Homo sapiens: one gene and its partners. Changing the gene in region 4 together with the main gene of any one other region gives a genetic interaction. Each region holds a gene or a part of one and is shown on either strand. Other genes may lie near its edges. The genes, in order: CHEK1, KIT, ATM and SMO.

Region 1 (8,320 bases), on a different chromosome or scaffold from region 4:
AGTACCCTGACTTTCCCCTTTATAATTATTAATAAACAAAATTATTTCTGTATTTTTTTCTACTGGACATTATAATCTCCATGAGGACAGAGATCATAGCTATCATGTGTTGTTGACTTGTGATAATAACTTTGCAATTACCTTTTCTTCCACAGAAAAACAAACAAACTTGTAGTTTAAGGATATTACCTTTCTTGAGGGGTTTGTTGTACCATCTATCTTTTTTGATGTCTGGAATGGTAATTCTTGCTGATGGATTCTCAACTAAGATTTTATGCAGCAGAGCTAAAAACAAACATTACGACAACATTCACGAAAGAATCATGTTAGAGAAGCCTATGGCTTGAGGTAAGAAACACATTTTCTGTTAGCCTACTTATGTCTAAATATTATTCCTGGGGAAGAGAAAGAATTAAAGCTACTAAATTACTGCTTTAATTTCATGCAGTTTTTCTCTGCTGCTGTATCTTGGAGTAGTCTTCCCTGATCTGATTCTCAATTGTTTGCAACTGAGAACAAGAGCCAGATGGAAATGTTTCTCCTCATGTGACGAGATTAACAAAAAGATACAGAAACCCCTCTTATCCATTTTCAATACCGAATTTCATTACTTCAATGTCATGTTCTCACGTGACCTCCTTATTCACACAGTTTTATAATGAACATTTACTTACCAATAACTTTTTAAGAGACAGTAATCTAACTAACCATCCTAAGGTATCTTAATTTTCTTGAGAAAAAATTCACGTATCTTCCTATGTGAAGATTATTTCCTAATGGACCAAAGATTTAAATGGAAAAATGAAGCCATAAAAACACTAAATGAAAACATAGGGAACTTTTAAATAGTAGAGGTAGAAGACCTTTCCAAAGAAATTATAGTCAGGGACCACAAAGGACAAGATAATAGATTTGAATGTCAATATAGCAAAACAAAATGAAAATAAATGATAAATTGTGAAAAGTATTTGTAACAAGTGCAAAGGTCAATGTGTTATCAAGGAAAAAAAAAAGCTTCAAAGTGGTAAGAAAAACAATATCCTTGACAAAAATGAGCAAAATAGACAAAAAACTAATACATACATAAAGGGTATACAACTTCATTAGTATTAAATTTAAAATAAAAATGAAAAACTATTATTTAAAGTTTTTTTCCTTAATGTAAATTGATGAGACTGTGATGAAATGGTTCGAACTTTCGGGAAGCAATTTGACAAAATAAGCCATAATAATAAAAACTACATCCTTGATCCTGCAATTTTGCTTCTGGGGATTTCAATGAACAATTTAAGGGTATGTGTCATGATTAAGTTACACAGATACTTATATCTCTTTTGTATCTGTGAAAATTTAGAAAAATCTCCAACAAAGTGATTAAAAGAGTAAAGTAAGGCATATCCACATGGCAGAATATTATCACAGCCTTTAAACCAACGATGTAGACCTACAATTATAGTCATGGAAGAATGTTCGCTGCGCACTAAAACCAAAAACAGTTACAAAATATTATTAGTGTGATCTCATTTTGTATAAAAACACATATAAATAATATACATATATTCATTTTACATACTTATGGGCCACATTAATGATGTTTCAGTCAGGAATGGACCACACGTATAACAGACAGTCCCATTAGATTATAATACTGTATTTTTACTATACTTTTTCTATACTTAGATACACAAATACCATTATGTTACAATTCCTTACAGTGCTCAGTATAGTAACATGCTGTACAGGTTTGCAGCCTGAGATCAATAGGGTATACCAAATAGCCTAGATTTATAGTAAGCTATACTATCTAGATTTATGTAAATATACTCTATGATGTTCACACAATGATGAAACCACCTAATGAAACATTTGTTAGAGTGCATCCCTATAATTAAGCAACAAACGAGTGTATTTGCAACAAAGTATAGCACATATGAAAACTTTAAGTAAAAAGCCATCTAAGAGCAGATTCAAGTTGCTCTGAATATACACTCCCCAAAATATTTTTAAAAATCTATTGCAGAGTTCTGGGACTAAAGAGTTATTTTTTCCTTAATTTTTTACTTATAGTTACTATTTTATCTACAACGAACATGAATTATTTGTAAGTTTAAAACAAAAAAAAAAGTAAGAAAAAATTCAAATAGCACAAGACTTCATATCCAAGAAATCGGTACTCTTTCACTCAAGATAATTCAGTTACCTAGAGGAGCAGAATCGATTTTTTTCCAAGGGTTGAGGTATGTTTTTTTTTCTTTCCAGTCAGAATACTCCTGACAGCTGTCACTGGGTTGGTCCCATGGCAATTCTAAAAACAAAGCAAGTCCCAGTTTTTTTAAATGTTCTTATTATAAAGATTTCAAGGAAAAATAATAATATAAATCCATGAAAAGTTTCCTTTGAATTAATTCAATATGGTTTTCACACTAAGAATCCCAACTTGGAAACTTTAGAGGCACTTCAAAGATAGATGAATCAGGATAGGCATGGCAGCTCAGGCCTGTAATCACAGCACTTTGGGAGGCTGAGGCAGAAGGACTGCTTGAGCCCAGGAGTTCAAGACCAGCCTGGGCAACATAGTGAGACCCCATCTCTACAAAAAATAAATAAAATTAGCTGGGCGTGATGGTGTGCATCTGTAGTCCTGGCTCCTCAGGAGGCTAAAGTGAGAGGATCACTTGAACCCAAGAGGTCAAGACTGCAGTGAGCCAAGATCACACTGCTGCACTGCAGCCTGGGCGACAGAGCAAGACTTTGTCTCAAAAAAAAAAAAACCAAAAAACAGATGAATCATTTCTTGCCCTAGTCTTGTTTTCACAAATGTTTACATGATACACAGGAGAGATAAGTGTTGTGATATTTAATAACTATGCATGCCTTAGCTTAAAAAATCTTTGGGATTATAAATAAGTTACTATTTGCAATGTGCTAAATATTTGTATCCCCCTCAAAAGTCATGTTGATATCCTAACTCATAATGCAATGGCATTCGGAGGTGGGGCCTTTGAGACGTAATTAGGTCCTGGTGATGGGACCACTCAAAAAATGGTATTAGTGCTCTTATTAAGAGCTTATTAATGTCTAATAAGGGCTTGTGTGCCCGGACAATATTGTATCTTTATAGGGCACTAATTATATAATCCCAGCACTTTGGGAGGCTTAGGTAGGCAGATTACTTGAGCCCAGGAGTTTAAGACCAGCCTACGTAACATGGAGAGACCGTCTGTGAAAAAAAACCCACAACAAATTAGCCAGGTGTGGTGGTGCACGCCTGTAGACCCAGATACTGAGGAGACTGAGGCAGGAGGATCGCTTGAGCCTGGGAGCTCAAGGCTGCAGTGAGCCTTGAATTGTGCCACTGCACTCCAGCCTGGGCAATAGAGTGAGACCCTGTCTCAAAAAAAACCACAAAAAAACAAAAAACAGACACAATATCTCACAACATCTGGTCATTTAACAAAAAACCCAAAAAACAGCACTTTGGGAGGCTGAGGTTGGGGGATCACTTGAGGTCAGGAGTTTGAGACCAGTCTGGCCAACATGGTGAAACCCTGTCTCTACTCAAAATACAAAAATTAGCCGGGTGTGATGATGCATGCCTGTAATCCCAGCTACTTGGGAGCCTGGGACAGAATTGCTAGAACCTGGGAGGCAGAGGTTGCAGTGAGCTGAGATCACATCACTGTACTCCAGCGTGGGTGACAGAGCAAGACTCTGGTCTAAAAAAAAAAAAAAAAACCACAATAGAGCTTGCTTCTGCTCTCTTGGCTGTCCACCATGAGAGAGCACAGCAAGACAGCCATCTGCAAATCAGGAAGAGGGCCCTCACTAAAACATGACCAGGTTGGCACCCCTAATCTCATATTTTCAGCCTCCAGAACTGTGAGAAATAAATTTGCTGTTTATAAGCTATGCAGTCTATGATACTTTGTTACAGCAGTTACCAAACCGATCAAGACACTATTAAAATACTACTATAAAAGCTGGGTACCATGGCTCATGTCTTTACTTTAATCCTAACAGTTTGGAGACCAAGACAGAAGGCTTGCTTGAGACCAGGTGTTTAAGACCAGCCTGGACAACACAGCAAGATCCCATCTCTACAATGAATTTTTAAAACTTAGCCAGATGTCTTGTGGCAGGCACCACTGGTCCTAGCTACTTGGAAGAGTGAGGCCAGAGGATTGCTTGAGCCTAGAAGTTTGAGGCTGCAGTGAGCTATAACAGCTCACTGTACTCCAGTCTGGCCAAGAGTGAGACCCTGTCTCTTAAAAAAGAAAACAAAAACTATTATATAAACATGAATTCCTTGGTTTATTTCATTTATTTCAGTATAACTAATCTGACTTTTTATAGGAGTTTTACCATGATTAAATAGCTCTTACCTCCAGCGAGCATTGCAGTAAGTACTATTCCACAGGACCAAACATCAACTGGTTCTGCATGAAATTCTCTTCTCTTCAGAAGTTCTGGAGCAACATATGGTAAAGTACCACACATCTTGTTCAACAAACGCTCACGATTATTATACCGAAATACTGTTGCCAAGCCAAAGTCTGAGATTTTGAGGTTATCTAAACCAAAAGAAAAAAAGATGACACTGAATAAAAATGTTTTGCAAATAGATATACTTACAGGAATTAAGTTTTACTGAAAAAAAATCACTGGTGTTACTTAAGGTTTGTAGAACTTCTCTTAAAATAAGCAAAATAGACAAAAAGAAATTTAAAAAAATAAAATAAATCATCATCTATGCTAAAAGTAGAAAAAGGCCTCACCTCTTCTATTAACTTAAAAGAAGTATTATCAACACACAGAACAGTCTGGACCAGATTAAAGAAAGAGGCTGGAGTCAGAAGGGGCTGCCCTTCTGGAAAAGAGCACTCTAAACCTGAGATGAAAGTAAAGCAAGGCCCCTCATCAGGTAGGGTGGAGGGCAGGAAGGAAACATCAGTAGTATGTTAGGCACAACTTTCTCAGCAGCAAACAAACCCAGTTGGCAGAAGAAAATATGTGAAGACACACCAAAATTCAACAAACCACAGTAATTTTTTTCTTCAAAGTAGAGAGTCTGAGAAAAAGAGGACAAACTCTGTACAAAAAAAAAATATCAGAAGACCCAACTTCCACCCTAACTTCCCATCTTCAACACACAAAAACTGCAGGCAGGACTTAACTTATGTTTAGTGAATATCTACTGTAACTTAGTGACAGACACTATGCCAGCCAATGCAGGTAATAGATAAATTAGTGAAGACTGACAATAGAAAACTGTTATGAAGGTTATAAAAATATAGAGCACTATAGGATCTTAGAGCAAAGGAATGTAACCCAGTCTTAAGAGTTAGAAAAGGCCCTCTATTATCAGAGGGCAATTTGGCAAAACATACTAAACTGTGAAACATTCACTCTTTGAACTAGCAATTCCCACTTCTATATCCATAGAAATAATCCCACAAATTCATAAACATAAGAATATTCATAGCAATATTATTTGTAAATAAATGTCCAAATTTGTACAATGGAAAATGTGGAGGTAGGTTTTGAAAACAATCAACAAGGTATATCTATACATACTAACATGAAATAGTGTGTAAGTGGGACAAAAAGGCTAATGGCATAAAAAATATTATAGCATAAAAAATATTATAGCATGACGCAATTTTTATATTGGCCTTTTACACAAATTGATAGAAGCCATCACTGTCCTATTTTATAAGTTAGAAACAACTTAAATGTCTCAAAATAGGGGACTGATTTCTTTAAAAATCAAGTACATTCACACAATATGTAAACCAATGAAATGTTTACCTCTATCTGACTTAGGAGGTAGCTACTGTGATTACCCTTTTTTTTTTTTTTTTTTTTTTTTTTTGAGAAAGTGTCTCACTCTGCTGCCCAGACTAGAGTGTAGTGATGTGATCACAGCTTACTGCAGCCTTGACCTCCTAGGCTGAAGTGATCAATCCTCCTGCTTCAGCCTTCCAAGTAGCTGGGACTCCAGGTGTGCACCACCATGTCTAGCTAATTTTTTTTTTTAATTTTTCATAAAGACAGGGTCTATGTTGTCTAGGCTGGTCTCAAACTCCTAGAATCACTCAATCGTCCCACCTCAGCCTCTGGGATTACAGGCATGAGCTACTGCACCCAGTTGATTATCTTTTCAGTAGTTAAATATGACACTATTGGACAAACCACTGAGATTGAGTTTCAAATTACTTATGAGTAGTAATCACTTAAAATACTAATGGATAACTATAGTATTCCTTGGACTTTGTTATGTCTGCAACATAATACTCAGCTATGTTAGAGAACTGCACATAATAAAATTTAAATGTAGGAATGTGTTTAGCTCTTAGAAAAACAAAGGAAGAATATATTTGTGATGAAATAAACAGGAGGACATTAAATACTGGTAACATTTTATTTCTTTTTTTAAAAGACTCCTAAATATTAAATAGAAACAAAGAATTATATCTTGTATATTAATACAAGATATAAAGAATAACAATGTAATAAACACCCACTCACTTTAGAAAAACAATGCTCTATTTCCTTTGAAATCTTTAAATACTTCCTTAAATACATTCCCTCCCCTACTTTCTTAGACCATTCTGAATTTGGTTTTATTATACCCTTGCTTTTCTGCATGTTTTTTTCTCCATGTTTACATACTTGAACAATATACTAGGTTTTACATATTTTTGAACTTTGTATAAACAGAATCAGACCATATGAATTCTTTTGCAACTGTCTCTTTTTGCTCTACATCATTATATACCTGAAATTCATCCATGTCACTGCTTGTGACATGCTTGTGTCACTGCTTGTGACATGGCTTGAAAAGCCATGCATTTCATAATTTATTGTTGACAGACATTTGGGTTAGTTTCCTGCTATATTAAAAACATCACCACTGTGAGCATTCTTATATACGAATAATGTTGTATTTTTAAACCAGGTGGGTTGATATACATATATTTACATTTCATTATAATACATAAGAATTTTTGTGTACCTGAATTTTTAAAGTTTTAAATAAAAATAAAGATTTTTATGTCATATAAACTCAGTTTAAAGGGGTAAAAAGTAAAATCCATATGCACATAAGAAAAAAGCATGTATAGGCTGGGTACAGCGGCTCACACCTATAATCCCAGCACTCTGGGAGGCCAAGGGAGGCAGATCACTTGAGGCCAGGAGCTCGAGACCAGCCTGGCCAATATGACAAAACCCCATCTCTACTAAAAATATAAAAATGAGCCAGGTGTGGTGACTCAGGCTTGTAATCCCAGCTACTCAGGGGCCTAAGGCACAAGAATCACCTGAACCAGAGAGGTAGAGGTTACAGTGAGCCGAGATCATGTCACTACACTCCAGCCTGGGCAACACAGCAAGACTCTGTTTCAAAAAAAAAAAAAAGCTGACCATTTGTTAAGCACTATTCTAATACTAAGAATAAAGCATTAAACCAGACAAAAACTACTGCCTCATACAGCTGACATTTCTTTTTTGATTCTGACCCTGTAAGCTTAAAGCTTTCGCTATCCATCCTTCTCAATTTGATGACATTCAGAAAATATAACTAAATTTCTTACATTTTTATCCACGTCATACATAAAAAAAGAGTGAACAGGACAAGACTAAGGTCCAGGGTATTCCACAGGAACTTCCCTTTATTAATCCATTAAAGGATTATTTTAAACTATTCTTGGCCAGGCATGGTGGCTCACGTCTATAATCCCAACACTCTGGGAGGCTAAGGCTGGTAAACTGCTTGAGTCCAGGAGTTCAAGACTAGCCTGAGCAACACAGGAAGACTCCACCTCTTCAAAAAATCAAAAATTAGCCAGGCATGGTGGCACCTGCCTGTGGTTGGTCCTAGCTACTCGGGAAGCTGAGATGGTAGGATTGCTTGAGCCTAGGAGGTCAAGGCTGCAGTGAACTGTGATAATACAGTGCACCCCAGACTGGACAACACAGTGAGCCTGTATCAAAAAAAAAAAAATTATTCTTATACATATAGTGAGCTAGGCTTGCACCTAGGTCAGATTTCTCTACCTGATCCGCACTTGTATTGCAAAATGAGACTTGTGATTTCCAAATATACGAAGTCTCCAAAATTTCCTTGATTTTTCAGATCTTGTCTTGAAATTCCAGTAATGCAAAAAGACTTGATTTTGCCTTGTATGGCTATATTAAAATAATTAGGTAATTAAAATAATTTAGGTAATTATTTTATTTTATTTTAGGTAGTGATAAAATGCTAAACTTACCCCTTTCATCCAACAGAAGATTTTCTGGTTTAATATCCCTGTGAGTT
Region 2 (8,320 bases), on a different chromosome or scaffold from region 4:
TCAAGAATGATTCTAATTATGTGGTTAAAGGAAACGTGAGTACCCATTCTCTGCTTGACAGTCCTGCAAAGGATTTTTAGTTTCAACTTTCGATAAAAATTGTTTCCTGTGATTTTCATAATGTAAATCCTGTCTAGGGATATCACACATTTTAGCAGTCAAATTAAGTATACTTCAGCAAAATTTGCATGGTATGCTGAACATTACTACAACTAACATTCAATAATAGAAGTCCTAATTCTAATTGTGTAATTTTGGGGCATGTGAAGGAAACAGAAATAGCCTTAATTTTCATTATAGCCTGAGAATAGCAATGAACTTGATTTTGCTCAAGTGTAACAAATGTAGGTCATTGAAGGTCACAGCAGGAGAAATTTTGGGGGGATTGGCATGCCGTGTGAAAAATATTAAAATCTAAGATCATATTCAGAGTTAGCCATATAGAATGTTGGATCCTAGAATACACGGAGAGCTATTAAATAGGTTCATAAGTAATAATGGGTTTGTAGAACATAGCAAATGTTTTTCAAAGTGCTGTATTTCCTTGCCAATTTTTATTGAATCCTCAGAACAAACCCTTGTCCTATAATTGCAGCACCTTCCTATTTTAAAAGTTGGAGAAACTAAGGCATGGCATATTTTAGTGCTTTTTATCTGAGGTGACACAGGACAATAGAGGCTGAAACTAGAGCCTGTGATTTCCAGAGTGGCATCCCATCGCCATGGAAAACCATATTGCCCTTTATAATATTCTCTGCCTGTCTTCCTGGGCCCATTTCTGCAGTCCAGATTTATTCCTGGAGGTGGATTTTTGTGCCCCTTATGATAATGTAATGTTTTCCCCCCATCACTGTGGCGTCTCTATTGGTAGCCTGTACTCGATTTGGTTTTGTAAGAGTGTTTCTGTGTTTATCTCCTGGCCAAAGCATGAATTTCTGAAAAGGCTGCCCTGAAGCTAGATATTATCATCAGGAGTGATAATAAAAACAACTTCTCTTCATCCTGGTGCAATTTTGGAAGGAAGAATGATAAGTCGTTAATTATCCAGTCCTCTGAATATTGACCAAAGGGAGGAGGAAGAAGGTGGCCGCCTCCAGGCCCAGTCTTGATGAATTCTGCAATCTGTCTCCATTATTTCATGCCTGTGTAATTTTGTCAAGAGTTGTCCAATACCTCTGAATCTTTGTTTTTCTCCCCTTGGGAATAATAGTGATTCCTGACTCAGAAAGTTATGAGTTAATATATGTAAAGTGCTTATGACAGTGCCAGACATATTGTTACTATTCTTTATAGATGTCTTATTTACGATCTAAATAATCGTGACGGTGGTTACATACTGTCTTGTTATTGGTTAGTGACCTTAGTTTGAAATGACAAAGAGGGGTTGGCTCTATCAGGCTTCCAGATTGTAGACTCCAGTTCAAGTCAGTTGAACTAACCAATCACAGATCTCGCTTTCACCAGGCTAGTGGGTAAGGAGAATTTCTGGAACAAGATAAGAAGAAGGAAACTCATATATGTTACCGCCCCACATTTTTGTCATCATCATTTGAGATCTCCTTGTTGTGTCAGGTTCTCTGAAGTTCTTTCCTTTCACATGAGTTCTTCATTGTTTTTCATGTCATGGCCCCTTTTAGAGCCTGGTAAAGCCTATGGGACCCTTATCAGAACACTGTTTTCAACGCCTATGATGAAATACATAGGAATACCAAGGAAAACAGTTAAATCGAAATAGCTATGAAGATACTAAGTAAATTTGTGATATGTCAGTACATGTGTTTACTATAGAGTGTAACAGGCTCTGTTAGGTTGGTGTAAAAGTAATTGTGGGTTTTGCTATTTTTTCTAAAAACCACTGTAATTTTAGAGTGGTGATTAATGTAAATATGATTTTGAGATACCTATAAAGACTTAATAGGATATGAAGATATTTATGATTACTGTTCATGACAAAGTCACAGGTACAGCTGATACTACTGCGTTTTATCACCTTTGTTAGTAATTTAAAGAAATGCTAAATTTCATCTAGAAATTAGCGAAAATAAGGATGTCATTTTTCCTTTCCAAGTTCACAGGCCCCTGAATTTGACACCCATAGATCTCAGGTTAGGAGCCCTTATAGGAACTTTAGCACAACATCTAGGAAGGGAAGGGATATTGGAAGTTTTTTGTTTTGTTTTTGTAAGCTGACTAAAATAACTTTAACACCAAAAAAAAAAAAGAAAAAAAAAAAAAGCTTTCCCAGTTTTCAATCCTAAATGGATTAAGAGAAGGATTGATTTAGCTTTTTATGGCAGATTAAGATTGGGAATCCAGAATGCATCTAAAAGGACTAGTTACAGAAAGTTTAGCTCAACTTTAATGGAGAGAGTTCTCCAAAGAGTCAGGATCACAAGCCACTACTGTTTATCAAGTACTTGCCTTTCTTCTAGGCAATTTTTCAGATAGCACTGAGTCAGGCGGTGCTAAGCATTTTTACCCATTTTATCTTATTTAACCCACAAGACAATTCATAAAATTAAAAGTATTCATTTTGTTTTACAGAAGAAGATACTGAGGCTTAATTACAAATATTTTAGTGACTTTCCCAGTGTATTAGAGAAAGTTTTGGGTTTTGACAGAAAACCCAAAATAAAAGAAGTCTAGGAGTAGACTTTATACCAGGATTGGTATAAAGGTTCCATGGAGTACCCGGGCAAGTCTTTCCTTTCCATGCTTAGCCATTCCTGAGTGTAACCCCCATGTCCATGGTCCAAGATGACCACCAGGTGGATAGCCAGCCATCATATCCAGAAGGCAGGGGGCCCTTGCACTAGAGAAGAGAGGGCAGAGGGCACGTGCCAGCTATATTGTAAGGAGGTTTTCCTGAAGCTGCTATACAGCACTTACAACTTAGTGGCCAAAACCGAGTCACCTAACTACAGCTAGCTAGCTGCAAAGGAGGCTGGGAAATGTAGTCCTAATTGTGAGAGGCCGTGTTTCTGTTTTTAAGGAAGGAGAGGGACATATTCAGTGGAAACTAACAAATCTCTGCATTACCTAAGGCCCATGGTGGAGCCAGGGCTAAAATGTCTGGCTGTCTCTGACGTTTGTGCTCTTAATCTCCATGCCGTACTGACATAGTGCTCACATCTTAAAATGGGGATAATGCACTTGTGAGCCATGTATTTCAGAGGTGATTGGGATCATCTGAGTTCATATAGGTAAAAGGTTTTTGTGAGATGGTACTCAAGTTATCACTCCACATTTCAGCAACAGCAGCATCTATAAGAATATCTTCTGTTCAATTTTGTTGAGCTTCTGAATTAACATTATTGACTCTGTTGTGCTTCTATTACAGGCTCGACTACCTGTGAAGTGGATGGCACCTGAAAGCATTTTCAACTGTGTATACACGTTTGAAAGTGACGTCTGGTCCTATGGGATTTTTCTTTGGGAGCTGTTCTCTTTAGGTAAAATGATCCTTGCCAAAGACAACTTCATTAGACTCAGAGCATCTTCTTGAAGTTTCATTGGTGTCCTGCTTCCTTGTGATTAACACTGCTTTGCAAACTGTGTCTCAGGAAGCAGCCCCTATCCTGGAATGCCGGTCGATTCTAAGTTCTACAAGATGATCAAGGAAGGCTTCCGGATGCTCAGCCCTGAACACGCACCTGCTGAAATGTAAGAGCCAAAAAATTTTTCCTTTAGGTCACGTTTTCCCTTTTATTTTTCTTTTTAGAGACAGAAACCCAGATGTTGAGGGTTTTCATAACACAGTTTGAAATGTCACTTGGATTCTTTATGACACACTGGTCAAATGTCATTTCTGTAGTTTATTTTCATAATCTCTTGTCACCAAAAATACAGAAAGTTTCAGTAATATTTCATACATGCAGTGTTTTATGTTATCTATATGTCAGTCCATATGTCCAGTTGCATAGCCCTGGAATTATTACTGAAGTTGCTGGATGCCCATACATTTGAAAACAAGCTGAGGGCATTGAGGAGGGATAGTAAATGGCCCTTGTCTTGCAGGTATGACATAATGAAGACTTGCTGGGATGCAGATCCCCTAAAAAGACCAACATTCAAGCAAATTGTTCAGCTAATTGAGAAGCAGATTTCAGAGAGCACCAATCATGTGAGTATACCCTGGCCAGGCATAGAATCCCCCTTCTCCCAGTTCCAGGTGTGTCCTCCTCCTCAGGCTTTCAGGGTGAGGACTAACCTCCCAACCCCTTCTCTCCTAATCTTAGGTTGCAAATTGGGCTTCAGGTAGGGGAAGTAAAGCAATGGAAACTAGTTCTTTCTGCCCAGCCCTCCTGTTCTGAGCCAAAGAAGGATGTGAGATTGAGGGGGAAGGGTGGAGAGTTTTGTACTCACTGGAAGTAGAAGTTTCCATAAGGATTTGCCATGTTTCCTCCCTCATCTCAAATGCTGGTCACGGGGTCAGTATTTTCTCCCTCTCACATGTCAGGGCCATGCATCCTTTGGAGGGTTGGGGTGATGTGAACTAGAATAAAAGCATAGAAAAGACAGCTTGTTACTGCAGTGAAATAAGCCTTCTGATCAAACAAGCATAGCCAGAAAATGGCAGATAGCTGTCATGCCCACAAGCCATATAGAATGAAGAGCTGTTTGAAGTTGGGAGATCCCTCCCAGTGATTTGGGAAGTGTGGGGGAATGAAAACTCAAATCCATTATTTCCTCTCTTTTTAAGCAAGAATTAGTGATACTTTGACTCAGATTTTTTTAAGCTGCTTTCTTTCCTGGGCTGTGTGCTTGGAGCTATCTTTTCTTTCCTAATAGCACACCACTGATAATTTTTGGGTTAAAGCTTGTTCTTCTGGGTGTCAAAACATGTTTCAAATTGAACAGCATTTTCCACCCAGTTGCTTTGATTCTTGACAAGAGACCCCTGGAAGGGCCGTGGGTTTCCCAGCAAATTACATTGGTTATTGGGTTGTAGTTGCTGGAGAGATTTACAAGCCTTTTAAATAGGTAAGATAGTGCTTGGTGCCTGGTGTGCCCTTTTAGAAGAGCTAAGCTTGTGCATGTTTTGTCCCCACTTCTTGTATAAAGTTATTTCCTTGGAAAAATGAAGGGGGAAAACAAAGCTTATATTTGTTTTGTCAGTATGACTTGGGTTTTGGCCACAAAGTTCTTGGAAACCACTTCTCTCTTAAGAGTTTCCATCAGTTAGTTGTGATCTTGACACTGTAAGTATGCCTTTTGTTGCTATGTTCGTTGTAGGGACTGCTGTATTGACTATGGGCTTGTTTTCTCCAGATTTACTCCAACTTAGCAAACTGCAGCCCCAACCGACAGAAGCCCGTGGTAGACCATTCTGTGCGGATCAATTCTGTCGGCAGCACCGCTTCCTCCTCCCAGCCTCTGCTTGTGCACGACGATGTCTGAGCAGAATCAGTGTTTGGGTCACCCCTCCAGGAATGATCTCTTCTTTTGGCTTCCATGATGGTTATTTTCTTTTCTTTCAACTTGCATCCAACTCCAGGATAGTGGGCACCCCACTGCAATCCTGTCTTTCTGAGCACACTTTAGTGGCCGATGATTTTTGTCATCAGCCACCATCCTATTGCAAAGGTTCCAACTGTATATATTCCCAATAGCAACGTAGCTTCTACCATGAACAGAAAACATTCTGATTTGGAAAAAGAGAGGGAGGTATGGACTGGGGGCCAGAGTCCTTTCCAAGGCTTCTCCAATTCTGCCCAAAAATATGGTTGATAGTTTACCTGAATAAATGGTAGTAATCACAGTTGGCCTTCAGAACCATCCATAGTAGTATGATGATACAAGATTAGAAGCTGAAAACCTAAGTCCTTTATGTGGAAAACAGAACATCATTAGAACAAAGGACAGAGTATGAACACCTGGGCTTAAGAAATCTAGTATTTCATGCTGGGAATGAGACATAGGCCATGAAAAAAATGATCCCCAAGTGTGAACAAAAGATGCTCTTCTGTGGACCACTGCATGAGCTTTTATACTACCGACCTGGTTTTTAAATAGAGTTTGCTATTAGAGCATTGAATTGGAGAGAAGGCCTCCCTAGCCAGCACTTGTATATACGCATCTATAAATTGTCCGTGTTCATACATTTGAGGGGAAAACACCATAAGGTTTCGTTTCTGTATACAACCCTGGCATTATGTCCACTGTGTATAGAAGTAGATTAAGAGCCATATAAGTTTGAAGGAAACAGTTAATACCATTTTTTAAGGAAACAATATAACCACAAAGCACAGTTTGAACAAAATCTCCTCTTTTAGCTGATGAACTTATTCTGTAGATTCTGTGGAACAAGCCTATCAGCTTCAGAATGGCATTGTACTCAATGGATTTGATGCTGTTTGACAAAGTTACTGATTCACTGCATGGCTCCCACAGGAGTGGGAAAACACTGCCATCTTAGTTTGGATTCTTATGTAGCAGGAAATAAAGTATAGGTTTAGCCTCCTTCGCAGGCATGTCCTGGACACCGGGCCAGTATCTATATATGTGTATGTACGTTTGTATGTGTGTAGACAAATATTTGGAGGGGTATTTTTGCCCTGAGTCCAAGAGGGTCCTTTAGTACCTGAAAAGTAACTTGGCTTTCATTATTAGTACTGCTCTTGTTTCTTTTCACATAGCTGTCTAGAGTAGCTTACCAGAAGCTTCCATAGTGGTGCAGAGGAAGTGGAAGGCATCAGTCCCTATGTATTTGCAGTTCACCTGCACTTAAGGCACTCTGTTATTTAGACTCATCTTACTGTACCTGTTCCTTAGACCTTCCATAATGCTACTGTCTCACTGAAACATTTAAATTTTACCCTTTAGACTGTAGCCTGGATATTATTCTTGTAGTTTACCTCTTTAAAAACAAAACAAAACAAAACAAAAAACTCCCCTTCCTCACTGCCCAATATAAAAGGCAAATGTGTACATGGCAGAGTTTGTGTGTTGTCTTGAAAGATTCAGGTATGTTGCCTTTATGGTTTCCCCCTTCTACATTTCTTAGACTACATTTAGAGAACTGTGGCCGTTATCTGGAAGTAACCATTTGCACTGGAGTTCTATGCTCTCGCACCTTTCCAAAGTTAACAGATTTTGGGGTTGTGTTGTCACCCAAGAGATTGTTGTTTGCCATACTTTGTCTGAAAAATTCCTTTGTGTTTCTATTGACTTCAATGATAGTAAGAAAAGTGGTTGTTAGTTATAGATGTCTAGGTACTTCAGGGGCACTTCATTGAGAGTTTTGTCTTGGATATTCTTGAAAGTTTATATTTTTATAATTTTTTCTTACATCAGATGTTTCTTTGCAGTGGCTTAATGTTTGAAATTATTTTGTGGCTTTTTTTGTAAATATTGAAATGTAGCAATAATGTCTTTTGAATATTCCCAAGCCCATGAGTCCTTGAAAATATTTTTTATATATACAGTAACTTTATGTGTAAATACATAAGCGGCGTAAGTTTAAAGGATGTTGGTGTTCCACGTGTTTTATTCCTGTATGTTGTCCAATTGTTGACAGTTCTGAAGAATTCTAATAAAATGTACATATATAAATCAAGTGGAGTCATTTGATTGTTGAGATTCGTTGAGATTAAACTTTAAAGCATTAAAGTGCAATCATCCTGACAAAGTTTTGTACGCAGTTTTCATAAAATATGTGCAGGGCTATCAGATCACGCTAGGATTTACATGCTTCGAGATTCAACAGATATTAAGAATTTTCATACGTGTGATATTTTCTCATTTTAGTCTTACAACCTGAGGTCTCTATTTAAATTGAAAAATAGATACAGAGAAGGTGCTTAGTATGTATGAGCTGGGTGCTGTCATGTGGGTGAAACATTATGCATGCCCAATTGGTACCGTCCAGACCACTGGAACCCAAACAGAGGCTGAGAGTTCTTCAGCTTGAAACAAAAGGAAGCACCCTGAATCACATAATCTTATTAAGAATGAGGCACCCACACACCCTCAGTCATGACTGTCTTTATTGACGTGACATCTACACCTGCAGAAATGTCTCCTGAAAGGAAAGGGAAGGGGTGAAAAGTGACCTGTAATGAAAAGGAATCCTTTTAAAATCCAGAGGGAATTGTGTGGCAAGGAATGCGTCAATAATCAGTGAAAAACAGACCCACATTTCAGTCAGGCAATTCCCATTATTTTATTGCAGACAGGAATGAATGCTAATTGACCACAAAACAAAGAAGTCTTTTCTTTCCAAATGTTTTCACTGTCATTTAGCCTTTGTCATGTGTGAGAAATTTGCGTTAGAAGCAGTTGACAGTCCCCTGTGTTAAGAGTCTAGCTAATTTTCCTC
Region 3 (3,553 bases), on a different chromosome or scaffold from region 4:
CAATTTTCCTGCCAATTTAGGAAGTAGGACATAGTAACTATTAACAGCCAGTTTATTTTTAGAGTACTATGGAAATGATGGTGATTCTCTAATTAGGATATTGTAAGAGTACCATGTCTATATATTTCCTTTTAGTTTGTTAATGTGATGGAATAGTTTTCAAATTATCCTTTTTTTTTTTTTTTAGGCTACAGATTGCAACCCAATTAATATCAAAGTATCCTGCAAGTTTACCTAACTGTGAGCTGTCTCCATTACTGATGATACTATCTCAGCTTCTACCCCAACAGCGACATGGGGAACGTACACCATATGTGTTACGATGCCTTACGGAAGTTGCATTGTGTCAAGACAAGAGGTCAAACCTAGAAAGCTCACAAAAGTCAGATTTATTAAAACTCTGGAATAAAATTTGGTGTATTACCTTTCGTGGTATAAGTTCTGAGCAAATACAAGCTGAAAACTTTGGCTTACTTGGAGCCATAATTCAGGGTAGTTTAGTTGAGGTTGACAGAGAATTCTGGAAGTTATTTACTGGGTCAGCCTGCAGACCTTCATGGTAAGTTCAGCATGCATTATGTCTGACTTACAGATAAACACACACAGACACACACACACTCACATATCCCTGATCATTTTCATAGTTTGTTACTTCAGTTAAAGATGTCAAATTCTATTTCAGATGCTTTTCTTGTTTGGCCGAGAAGACTTAATAAATGCATAAGTGAATTTAGTTTCAAATGTTGACAAATTATTAAAGACTAATGTTAAGGAATTTCTTTTTTAGTTAAAAAATTTTTAATTGATCTATAATAGAGTTATATATTATCAAGGTACATGTGATAATTTGACACACTCATATGACACACTCATGTAGGGTGATGGGATATCAGCACCCTACGTATCTTTTCTTCATGCTAGGAACGTTTGAATTATTCTCTTCTTGCTGTTTGGAAATGTACAATAGATTAATGTTAACCGTAGTCACCCTACTGATGTATCGGACACCAGGTCTTATTCCTTCTAATTGTATACGTGTATCCAAAAGACTTTCTTTAAAGAATTATGAAGAGTTTAAATTTCTTTTATGTGCAATTTATCATTATTTATTAAATAGCCATGTTTAAATTGTAGTACTATGCACTGTTAATAAACGAGCTATTTTTTAATCAAGAATCTTCCCAAATGTAATCAGACTTTTAACAGTTTTTATGTTCATTTAGTCACCTTAACTAAATGTATGTGCCAGGCACTGTCCTGATAGATAAAGTCTTTGCCCCTCCAATAGCTTGCTTTTCACAATTGTCCTTTGTTTTGTTATAGTCCTGCAGTATGCTGTTTGACTTTGGCACTGACCACCAGTATAGTTCCAGGAACGGTAAAAATGGGAATAGAGCAAAATATGTGTGAAGTAAATAGAAGCTTTTCTTTAAAGGAATCAATAATGAAATGGCTCTTATTCTATCAGTTAGAGGGTGACTTAGAAAATAGCACAGAAGTGCCTCCAATTCTTCACAGGTAATTTAAGTTCATTAGCATGCTGCTGTTTTTTTTGTTTGTTTTATCAGGCTCTCTCCACTTATTTGATGCCAGATGGCTTTATTTTATAATAATAATGCAGAATTTCCCAGATCTAACCTTAATTATTAAATATTATGTTTGTTTTTACAGTTATCTGTGTCTTTATGCCTGATTGCTTCTGAAATAAAGGGTTGTCTCACTGTGAGAATATGGGGGATGTGCATGAAAAATGCACATATAATTCTTTGAGCATTTATGTGTTCCTTTCTGATTTTTTAAATAAGTAAGTCCATATATTTGAGTCATGTAGATCCTGGATCCTTTCTCATAATGGGAGTGTCTTTTGGGTAAAAGATGTTTTATGAATGAGGTGAGGAAACGAGGAAGACAAAACAGGATGTAAGCACTAGGATAAAGGAATGGAGTCCCTCGTCCACTTAACCTTTCCACAGATTGGTAATTGGAACCAAATGATTGGAGAGCAGACCTCCGAATGGATCCAATTAAAGTACTTTTGCTTTAATTTTACAACCTTTTATTTATTTCAGAAATAATGTTAAACATGCTGTTTCTAAACAGTATTGGAAATGATAATAACAATGGTTGTCCTCCTTAAATTGTCCTTTTAGATATTAAGAAATTTAGTATAGATGAAAGCAATTTTAATCTAGGATCCAAATTTTAGAAGTCAAGATTTATAGCTAAACATGGATGTTAAAGTTTAAAGTATTCTTTACATGGCTTTTGGTCTTCTAAGTGAAGCTTTTTGTTTTTCTTTGTAGTAATTTTCCTCATCTTGTACTGGAGAAAATTCTTGTGAGTCTCACTATGAAAAACTGTAAAGCTGCAATGAATTTTTTCCAAAGCGTGCCAGAATGGTATGTTATCTAATAATGCTCTTTATCATTTTAAGCTATAGCTTTAATTACAAAGATGATAATTTTAGCTGGGTAGTAGCTGCATCTTAATAATTGTAAACTAAATTGGTCCAAAAAAATTGCAACTGTTAGCCAGGGAAGAGGTTGTTTTAATTCAGTGATTGTAATCTATGTTATATAACATTAGACCAAGCTTACTATTTTTTAATGCTGTATAGTATAATATGTGACAAGTGCCAATGAGAAAAACTGAATGGTTATGCTGGGAAATTAAGAATATAAAATTTATATGAAATAAGTTCTTAAAGATGTTACCCATTTCTGTACATCAACTATGATTTGACTATTTGTTAGCTTTAAAAACTAATGATAATTGAAAACAAAAATAAATCTAAACCTGAGTTTAGTTGATTGACTCAAGAGACTTAGATTGTATTGCTGTGACTGAAAATGACTCACTGGCACAAACATTCCTTATCTCCCTCAAGAGGGCAAAAGGATGCGTAACTGCTTACCTATACCAGATGTTAAAGGTTTTTAAACCTATGCTCTTTACTTCCTCTGCTTGGTGAAAAAAGGGATATGTTTGCAGACAATGTTATGCTTAACATTTATATCTGGTGTTTTTAAAAATACTTTCTGAATTTGCCTTTGAGATTGTAACTTGTATTTTTTCTCTATCTATTAGTAAAATTTGCTACTGAATAATGACATTTGATATAAGTAGGTCTCAAAGTCCGAAGAAGAGAAGCATTTAAAAGAATAATCTATTAATTATATAAGTAGTCTTTGAATGATGTAGATACTAGGTTAATGTTTTCCTTTGTAATATATTGCTAATACATATAAGGCAAAGCATTAGGTACTTGGTTTATATATTAAAGATCTTACTTTCTTGAAGTGAACACCACCAAAAAGATAAAGAAGAACTTTCATTCTCAGAAGTAGAAGAACTATTTCTTCAGACAACTTTTGACAAGATGGACTTTTTAACCATTGTGAGAGAATGTGGTATAGAAAAGCACCAGTCCAGTATTGGCTTCTCTGTCCACCAGAATCTCAAGGAATCACTGGATCGCTGTCTTCTGGGATTATCAGAACAGCTTCTGAATAATTACTCATCTGAGGTGAGATTTTTTAAAAAAAGAACTAAG
Region 4 (8,320 bases):
TAGAGGTAGGAGGGCTTGGTGCTTTGAAAGAAAGTATAAGAGTTGCAGTAGAACTGGATCAAAGCGTGTGAGGGGTGGAATTGTGAGAGATAAGACCTAAAGAATTAGAAAATAAAGGGATTTATACCTCATATTAAGTTTGGATGTTATCCAGGGGATGATAAGGAGCCATTGAAAGATTTTAAGCAAGGGAGAGATGTAATTGTCTTTGCATTTTAGCTGGATCTCTTTGGGTATGGTGTGAAGAAGCCATAGGAGCAGGGAAAGCCTGGAGCCTGGCTTCTTGACCAGGGGATGTTGAAGTAGCCCAAGTAAGAGACGATGGCGGTTGGGACTGGGTAGCAGGACAGAGGGAGTGGGCAGATCCCACTAACTTTCAGAGGTAGTGCTCATAGGGCACTGATGAGTTAGATGTGGAGCCTCAGTGAGCAGGAGGCCTCGGGTTTCAGGCTTGGATGGAAGGTGGTGCCATTCCCTTTCACTAAGATAGAGAATGCTAGAGGAAGAAGAAGTTTAGGCAGGAGGTGTGGCTTTGATTTTGGCCGTGTGAATTAGAGATGCTCATTGGACATCTATGTGGAGATTCTCAGCAGATCTGGAAATAGGAATTGCTGGAGAGAGGTGGCCACTGTGTGCTTCCTTGGCCCTGACTACTGAGGCTTTGGAAGGATGCCATTGACTGAGGAAGTTTATAGCTCAGGTTGGTCCAATTTCTAGGTCTGTATAGACCTCAGGTCTTTCCTCTGTCTTTCATCTCTCTGGCCTCAGGCTTCTTCAGTCACTTAGCATCTCTCCCCTTTACAGCTGGAAATGCCTCCTCCCGGGCATTCCAAGCTGACCAGACAAACATAATGTCCAGGCCGTGGTCCACCTTAGGCCAAACCTGGTTTAGTAAGTGGGGCAAAAAAGCAGAGAGGCCTGCAGCTGGCAGTGGCGATAGGTCCCTGAGAGCCAGCACGTAGCCTCCTTAACCACTGCTGTGCTCTGTGTGGTACATAAGTGTGTGGCCCTGTCACCTTGCCCACTTGCAGGTAAGTAGGAGAGAGACAAAGGCTGGGAGGAATTTCTTGTTTGCCTCTCACACATTGAATTGAGGGCTGAGAGGAGGAATGTTTTTGGTGATGGTGGGTTATTTTCAGGGACGGATCAGGAAGAATTTCCTTAGAGCTATTTCCAAACTTGGCTGGTAATCAGAGTCAGTTAAAAAGATATATATGGCCGGGCGCGGTGGCTCACGCCTGCAATCCCAGCACTTTGGGAGGCCGAGGTGGGCGGATCACGAGGTCAGGAGATCGAGACCATCCCGGCAAACAGGGTGAAACCCCGTCTCTACTAAAAATACAAAAAAATTAGTTGGGCATGGTGGCGGGTGCCTGTAGTCCCAGCTGCTTGGGAGGCTGAGGCAGGAGAATGGCGGGAACCCGGGAGGCAGAGCTTGCAGTAAGCCGAGATCACGCCACTGCACTCCAGCCTGGGCGACAGACCGAGACTCCATCTCAAAAAAAAAAAAAAAAAAAAAAAAAAAATATATATATATATATATATATATATATATATGTATAGGCTGGGTGCAGTGGCTCACACCTGTAATCTTAGCACTTTGGGAGGTTGAGGCAGGAGGATTTCTTGAAGCCAGGAGTTCGAGACCAGCCTGGGCAACAAAGTGAGACCCCATCTCTAAAAAAAAAAATTAGCCGGGCATGTTGGCACACACCTGTGGTCCCAGCTACACTGGAGGCTGAGGCAAAAGGATCGCTTGAACCCAAGAGGTTGAGGCTGCAGTGAGCCATCCTCACACCACTGCCCTCCAGACTGGGCAACAGAGCAAGACCCTGTCTCAAAAATACATACATACATATAGATATGTGTGTATGTATACACACACACACATATATGTATAGTGAAAATGTAAAATACAGAAAAACATACATGGACCTAAGTCTTTTTTAAAAAAAAATTATCTTTAATTAATTATTTGAGAAATGGGGTCTTGCTGTGTTGCCCAGGCTGGAGTGCAGTGGCTATTCAGAGGCTCACTCATTGTGCGCATGGTGCTTATGGTGCCTGGAATAGCTGGCACTACAGGCATGTGTTCTGTGCCAGCTCAAGTCTTCAATTTTGCTTCAGATCTTTAACTTTTTAATTGTGAAATATAACTGTATGCAGAAAACTGCATAAAACACAAAGGTACTGAATAACAAATAATTATAAAGTGACATCTGGGTCAATAACTAGACCACAGTCAGACCCCTGAAGCTCCCTCTGTGTCTTGTCTAGTCACATCCCCCTCCCCTTGCTCAAGAGGTTTTCAGTAATCACATCCTTTTTTTCTCTATGGTTTTACCTCCTAGTTTTGGAATCCATAAGCAGTATATTTCAGCTTTGCATGTTTTTGAACTCTGTTCAAATGGAATTTGTACAAAATAATATGCTGTGCATATTATTTCTTGCTTCTTTTACTTTATATCATTATGTAAGATTCATCCATGTTATTGCAGCTTATTTCTTTTTTGCTTGTTTATTTGTTTGTTTTTGTTTTTTTGAGACAGTCTCACTCTGTCACCTAGGCTAGAGTGCAGTGGCGCGATCTCGGCTCACTACACCTCCACCTCCTGGGTTCAAACGATTCTCCTGCCTCCGCCTCCCAGGTAGCTGGGACCATAGGTGCACGCCACCAGGCCTGGCTAATTTTTGTATTTTTTAGTAGAGACAGGGTTTTGCCATGTTGGTCAGGCTGGCCTCAAACTCCTGACTTCAGGTGAGCCACCCGCCTCATACTGCAGCTTATTTCTTCATTGCTGAATAATATTCCATTATATGAGTATACCCCCAGTTGTTTACCCATTTTATTGTCATCTCAAGTTTTTGCCCATTGCAAATAACATTGCTGTGAGTAGTCTTTTATGTATATCCTAGTACAACTGGCACAAGTTCCTTCAGGTATATGCTGAAGAAGTAGAATTGCTAGATAATAAGGCACGCATACTTTAGGCTTTTGCCAAACCATTTTTCAAAGTGGTTGTACTAACTTATACTCCCACTAGCTAGTAGAAAGTCAACACTGGTTCACATGATTCCCAACATTTGGTATTATCAGCCTTTTACATTTTTGCCAATCTAGTGGCTATATTGTGGCATATATTTGTGGTTTTAATTTGCACTTCCCTGATTACTAGTAAAGTTAAATGCCTTTTTAAATGCTTACTGGCCTTTAGGGTTTCTGCTTTTGGGAAGTGTCTGTTCAAATCTTTGACATATTTTTCCATAGGGGCTATCTGTCATTTTTGTAAGATTTGTAGGAGTTCTTTATATATGCTAGATATGAGTTTATAGGATTACAAAGGAAATCAATTATATTGACATAATAGTTATCAAATATAAAAATGCAAGTATGTGGGCTTATTTATTTATACAATAAATAAGATCTGGTGCAGGTGTAATAACAACTATAATATCAAAGTGATTATAAGCATTGACATTATTTCAAGATATCTGCAACAAAAATATCTGGTTTCCACTTGTGACAACGCCACAGGTACTATTAACATTATGTACTGTGGGCCAGGCGTGGTGGCTCACACCTGTAATCCCAGCACTTTGGGAGGTCAAGGTGGGCAGATCACGAGGTCAGGAAGTCGAGACCATCCTGGCTAACACGGTGAAACCCCATCTCTACTAAAAATACAAAAAATTAGCCGGGCGCGGTGGTGGGCGCCTGTAGTCCCAGCTACTCGGGAGGCTGAGGCAGGAAAATGGTGTGAACCCAGGAGGCGGAGCTTGCAGTGAGCCGAGATCGTGCCACTGCACTCCAGCCTGGGTGACAGAGTGAGACTCCCTCTCAAAAAAAAAAAAAAGAAAAGAAAAAAAAAACAAAAAAAAATTATGTACTGCGATGTGTTGCTTACATTCATAATTGGAGGAAGGGCCAAATTTTAGTTAGGTGTAATTTTTTTCCCATTGAAATTCATGGACCTCTGAATTTTTCCAAGAATCCTTTGTGAACCATAGGGTAAGAATGTTACTTACAGAATATCACTATCTAGTAGAGAGTCTGAGCTATTCTTGATTGTGTGTGTGTGTGTGTGTGTGTGTGTGTTTTAATAGAGACAGGGTTTGACCCTATTGTCCCGGCTGGTCTTGAACTCCTGGGCTCAAGTGATCCTCCTGCCTTGGCCTCCCAAAATGCTCCTTTGTGTTTTAATATAAAAATACTTGGTGATTTTTTATTGGGATTGCATTGACTATATAGATTAACTTGGAAAAAAAAAGAGACATCTTTACAATACTGAGTCTTCCAAACATTGAACATTTATATATTTCTATTTAGATCTTTCATTTTCTCAATATTCTGCACAGATTTAAATACTTATTATTTGTTAGACATTCCTAGGTACTTGATATTTTTGATGCTGTTGTAAATGATGCCTTTAACATTTATTTCACTTTGTTTGTTGCTGACATATAGAAATAAAACTGGCTGGGCACGGTGGCTCACACCTGTAATCCCAGCACTTCGGGAGGCCAAGGCAGGGGGATCACGAGGTCAGGAGATTGAGACCGTCCTGGCTAACATGGTGAAACTCCATCTCTACTAAAAATACAAAAAGTTAGTCGGGCATGGTGGCGGGCGCCTGTAGTCCCAGCTACTCAGGAGGCTGAGGCAGGAGAATGGCGTGAACCTGGGAGGCGGAGCTTGCAATGAGCCCAGATTGTGCCACTGCACTCCAGCCTGGGCAATACAGTGAGACACCGTCTCAAAAAAAAAAAAAAAAAAGAAATAAAATTGATGCCTTTAACATTTATTTCACTTTGTTGCTGATATATAGAAATAAAATTGATTGTGAATTCAGTAAACTTGCTAAATTTATTCTATACACATAGTCATATAATTTGTGAGTAATGAGTTTTGTTTCTTTCTTTCCAAGTCTTATACCTTTTATTTATCCTTATTGCTTTACTGAAGGCTTCCAGTACATTGTTAAATAGACAAAACATCTTAATTCTTGACTTTTCTGGATTCTAAAAAGAAAGCTTTTTCTACCCTTCACCATTAAATTTGATGTTTGGTATAGGTTTTTTATAGTTAATTACATTTTATCAGATTAAGAACGTTGTCTCTTATTTCAAATTTGCCAATTATTCTTTTGATCATAGATGGATGTTGAATTTTATCAACTTTTTTTTTTGGAGACGAAGTGTCACTGTCACCGAGGCTGGAGTGCAGTGATGCGATCTCAGCTCACTGCAACCTCTGCCTCCTGGGTTCAAGCGATTCTCCTGCCTCAGCCTCCCAAGTATCTGGGACTACAGGCGCATGCCACCACGCCCGGCTAATTTTTTGTATTTTTAGTAGAGACGGGGTTTCACCGTGTTAGCCAGGTCAATTTCCTGACCGTGTGATCCGCCCGCCTCAGCCTCCCAAAGTGCTAGGATTACAGGTGTGAGCCACTGCGCCCGGCTGAATTTTATCAACTTTTTTTTGCATCCATTGAGATGATCATATGATTTTTTTCTCCTTTAACCTGTTAATGTAGTAAATTGCATTGATTGAATTTTCTAATATTAAACCAGCCTTAGAACAGTGATACTCAACTTGACTAGTCATCAGAATCACACAAATAAAAAGTCTTTTTAAAAGTCTAGATCAGCCAGGCGCGGTAACACCCGTATTCCTGTTTCTCTTTTTGTTTCATATTTTATTAAAATAAAAGAAGTAAAATAATACTGATAAAGCTGATATCCCCTCTCTTTCTCGTTTCAGTTTCATATCCTTCTTTTCTCTTTGGAAAGCTTCCCCATCCTAGTAATTTGTGTATTTCTTTATTTTGTTTTTAAGCTCAAGTTTTGTTTTTGTTTTTGTTTTTGTTTTTTTGTAGAGATGGGGTTTGGCCATATTGCCCAGGTTGGTCTCGAACTCCTGAACTTAAGTGATCCACCCACCTTGGGCCTCCCAAAATGCTAGGATTATAGGCGTGAGCCACCATGTCCAGCCTTAAGCTTAATTACTTTTAAAAAATAGGTTATACATGTACATGGCACAGAATTCAAAAGGAACAAGTTAAGTCCTACTTCTGCATCTAGCTACCCATTTTTCCTCTGCAGAAGTAACCACCAACACTGGTTTTTGTGTCCTTTTGGAAATATCCAACATCTGTCCAGATGTAGATGTGCTCTCAGTCTCTCCTCTACCGCCCAACCAGTACCATGCTCTATAGACTGCTCTCCACTCAACTGAGTCCATGTAACATGACAACATTGGACATCATTCCATTTCAATGCACATCCTGTCATGCACCCCAGAAGGAGATTTTGGTTAACAATGGACCACATGTGATGGTGTTCCCTTAAGATTATAATACCACATTTTTACTGTAGCCTTTCAATGTTTAGATATGTTTAGATACACTGATACTCACCGTTGTGTTACAGTTGCCTGCAGTATTCAGTATAGCAACATGCTGTACAGGTTTGCAGCCTAGAAGCCATAGGTTATACTGTATCAGCTAGGTGTGCAGTAGGCTATACCATCCAGGTTTGTGTAAGTACACTCTGATGTTCACACAAAGATGACATTGCCTGATGACACATTTCACAGAAGATATCCTCATTGTTAAGCAACATGTGACTATATCTCAACCCTGAATAGTGTTCTATTATAATGGTGTACATTATTTTACTTGGTTGGTCTCCTATTGATGGATATGGATTCAAGCTGTTTCTACTTTTTTGCTATTGCAAAACAGTGCTGCAATGAATAATCTATATTATCTTTGTGAACATGTGAAGTAGAAGTACTAGTATAAAATTTTGGTAGATAATGCCAAAGTGATCTCCACAAGTGTTTACTAATTTTTATTCCTACCAACAAATATAAAAGTGCCAGTTTATCCCTACACTCTTTATAGTACGGTATTTTCTTTTCTTTTTTTTTTTTTTTTTGAGATAGAGTTTTGTTCTGTCACCCAGACTGGAGTGCAATGGCGATCTCGGCTCACTGCAACATCCGCCTCCTGGATTCAAGCAATTCTCCTGCCTCAGCCTCCCAAGAAGCTGGGATTACAGGCGCCCACCACCACACCTAGCTAATGTTTGTAGTTTTTTAGTAGAGACGGGTTTTCACCATGTTGGCCAGGCTTGTGTAGAACTCCTGACCTCAGGTGGTCCACCTGCCTCGGCCTCCCAAACTGTTGGGATTACAGGCGTGAGCCACCACCATGCTCAGCCTTCTTTATGTTTTTAAAGGCCATTAAATGGCCTTGAGTCCAGGAGTTCAAGACCAGCCTGAGCAACATGGTGAAACCTTGTCTCTACAGAAAAATACAAAAATTCACCAGGTGTGGTGGTGTGAGCCTGTAGTCTTTGCTACTCAGGAGGTTGAGGTGGGAGGATTAACTGAACCTGGGGAGCTGAAGGCTGCAGTGAGCCGTGATTATGCCACTGTACTCCAGCCTGGGCAACAGTGTGAGACCCTATCTCAAAAAATAAAAAAATAAAAAAAACATAAAGAGATGTTCGACCTCACTCTTAATAATACAAATGTGGAATAAACTACAACGAAATATTCTTTTTTTAAACTTTTATACTTTTTATCACAGTGATAAAGATCAAAACATTTGAAAATGTGATCTGTTATTTGTCTTTCGCCTGTGTGTCTATAGAATTATGCAATTTTTACTGATTTGGAGGAGCTTTGTGCATATAAGGAAATTAGCTCTTGTGATAAGTATTGAAAATACATTTTTTCAGTATCTTACTTTTCTTATGATTTTTGTATCGATTTTTCTGAAGTCTTTTGTTTAAATCTTTTATTTCATGATGTGTAGGCTTTGTGTCATTTCAGAAGGCCTTCTCCACTCCAAGGTTTAAAAAATCATTTCCTGGCCAGGCGTGGTGGCTCACGCCGTAATCCCACTTTGGGAGACCGAGGCGGGTGGATCACGAGGTCAGGAGATCGAGACCATCCTGGCTAACACGGTGAACCCCCGTCTCTACTAAAAATACAAAAAAAAAATTAGCCGGGTGTGGTGGCGGGCGCCTGTAATCCCAGCTACTCGGGAGGCTGAGGCAGGAGAATGGCGTGAACCCAGGAGGCGGAGCTCGCAGTGAGCCGAGATCACATTACTGCACTCCAGCCTGGGCGACAGAGCAAGACTCCATCTCAAAAAAAAAAATCATTTCCCATCTTTTCTTCTAAAACTTTAATTTTTAGAAAAACAATGTAGTTATTTTTTTATCCATCTGGACTTTTATGTAAGAAATGGGGTAAAGCTCCACCTTATTTTTTCCCCAGATAATTTCTTAGTTGTCCTTGAAGATGTAT

The links.
Region 1: changes in SMO (region 4) and CHEK1 together harm fitness more than expected from each alone (negative genetic interaction), as found in Homo sapiens cells (one large-scale study listed by BioGRID).
Region 2: changes in SMO (region 4) and KIT together harm fitness less than expected from each alone (positive genetic interaction), as found in Homo sapiens cells (one large-scale study listed by BioGRID).
Region 3: changes in SMO (region 4) and ATM together harm fitness more than expected from each alone (negative genetic interaction), as found in Homo sapiens cells (one large-scale study listed by BioGRID).

What each region holds. Positions count from the first base shown.
Region 1 is NC_000011.10:125,629,414-125,637,733, reverse strand, and holds part of CHEK1 (serine/threonine-protein kinase Chk1), read right to left. Parts: coding exon 8,274-8,320; intron 4,572-8,273; coding exon 4,383-4,571; intron 2,306-4,382; coding exon 2,201-2,305; intron 286-2,200; coding exon 190-285; intron 1-189. UniProt on the Homo sapiens protein: Serine/threonine-protein kinase which is required for checkpoint-mediated cell cycle arrest and activation of DNA repair in response to the presence of DNA damage or unreplicated DNA.
Region 2 is NC_000004.12:54,733,158-54,741,477, forward strand, and holds the end of KIT (mast/stem cell growth factor receptor Kit isoform 1 precursor), read left to right. Parts: coding exon 1-35; intron 36-3,340; coding exon 3,341-3,452; intron 3,453-3,563; coding exon 3,564-3,663; intron 3,664-4,017; coding exon 4,018-4,123; intron 4,124-5,271; coding exon 5,272-5,400; 3' UTR 5,401-7,558; downstream 7,559-8,320. UniProt on the Homo sapiens protein: Tyrosine-protein kinase that acts as a cell-surface receptor for the cytokine KITLG/SCF and plays an essential role in the regulation of cell survival and proliferation, hematopoiesis, stem cell maintenance, gametogenesis, mast cell development, migration and function, and in melanogenesis.
Region 3 is NC_000011.10:108,250,514-108,254,066, forward strand, and holds part of ATM (serine-protein kinase ATM), read left to right. Parts: intron 1-187; coding exon 188-559; intron 560-1,323; coding exon 1,324-1,518; intron 1,519-2,303; coding exon 2,304-2,399; intron 2,400-3,300; coding exon 3,301-3,526; intron 3,527-3,553.
Region 4 is NC_000007.14:129,192,261-129,200,580, forward strand, and holds part of SMO (protein smoothened precursor), read left to right. Parts: intron 1-8,320. UniProt on the Homo sapiens protein: G protein-coupled receptor which associates with the patched protein (PTCH) to transduce hedgehog protein signaling. Binding of sonic hedgehog (SHH) to its receptor patched prevents inhibition of smoothened (SMO) by patched.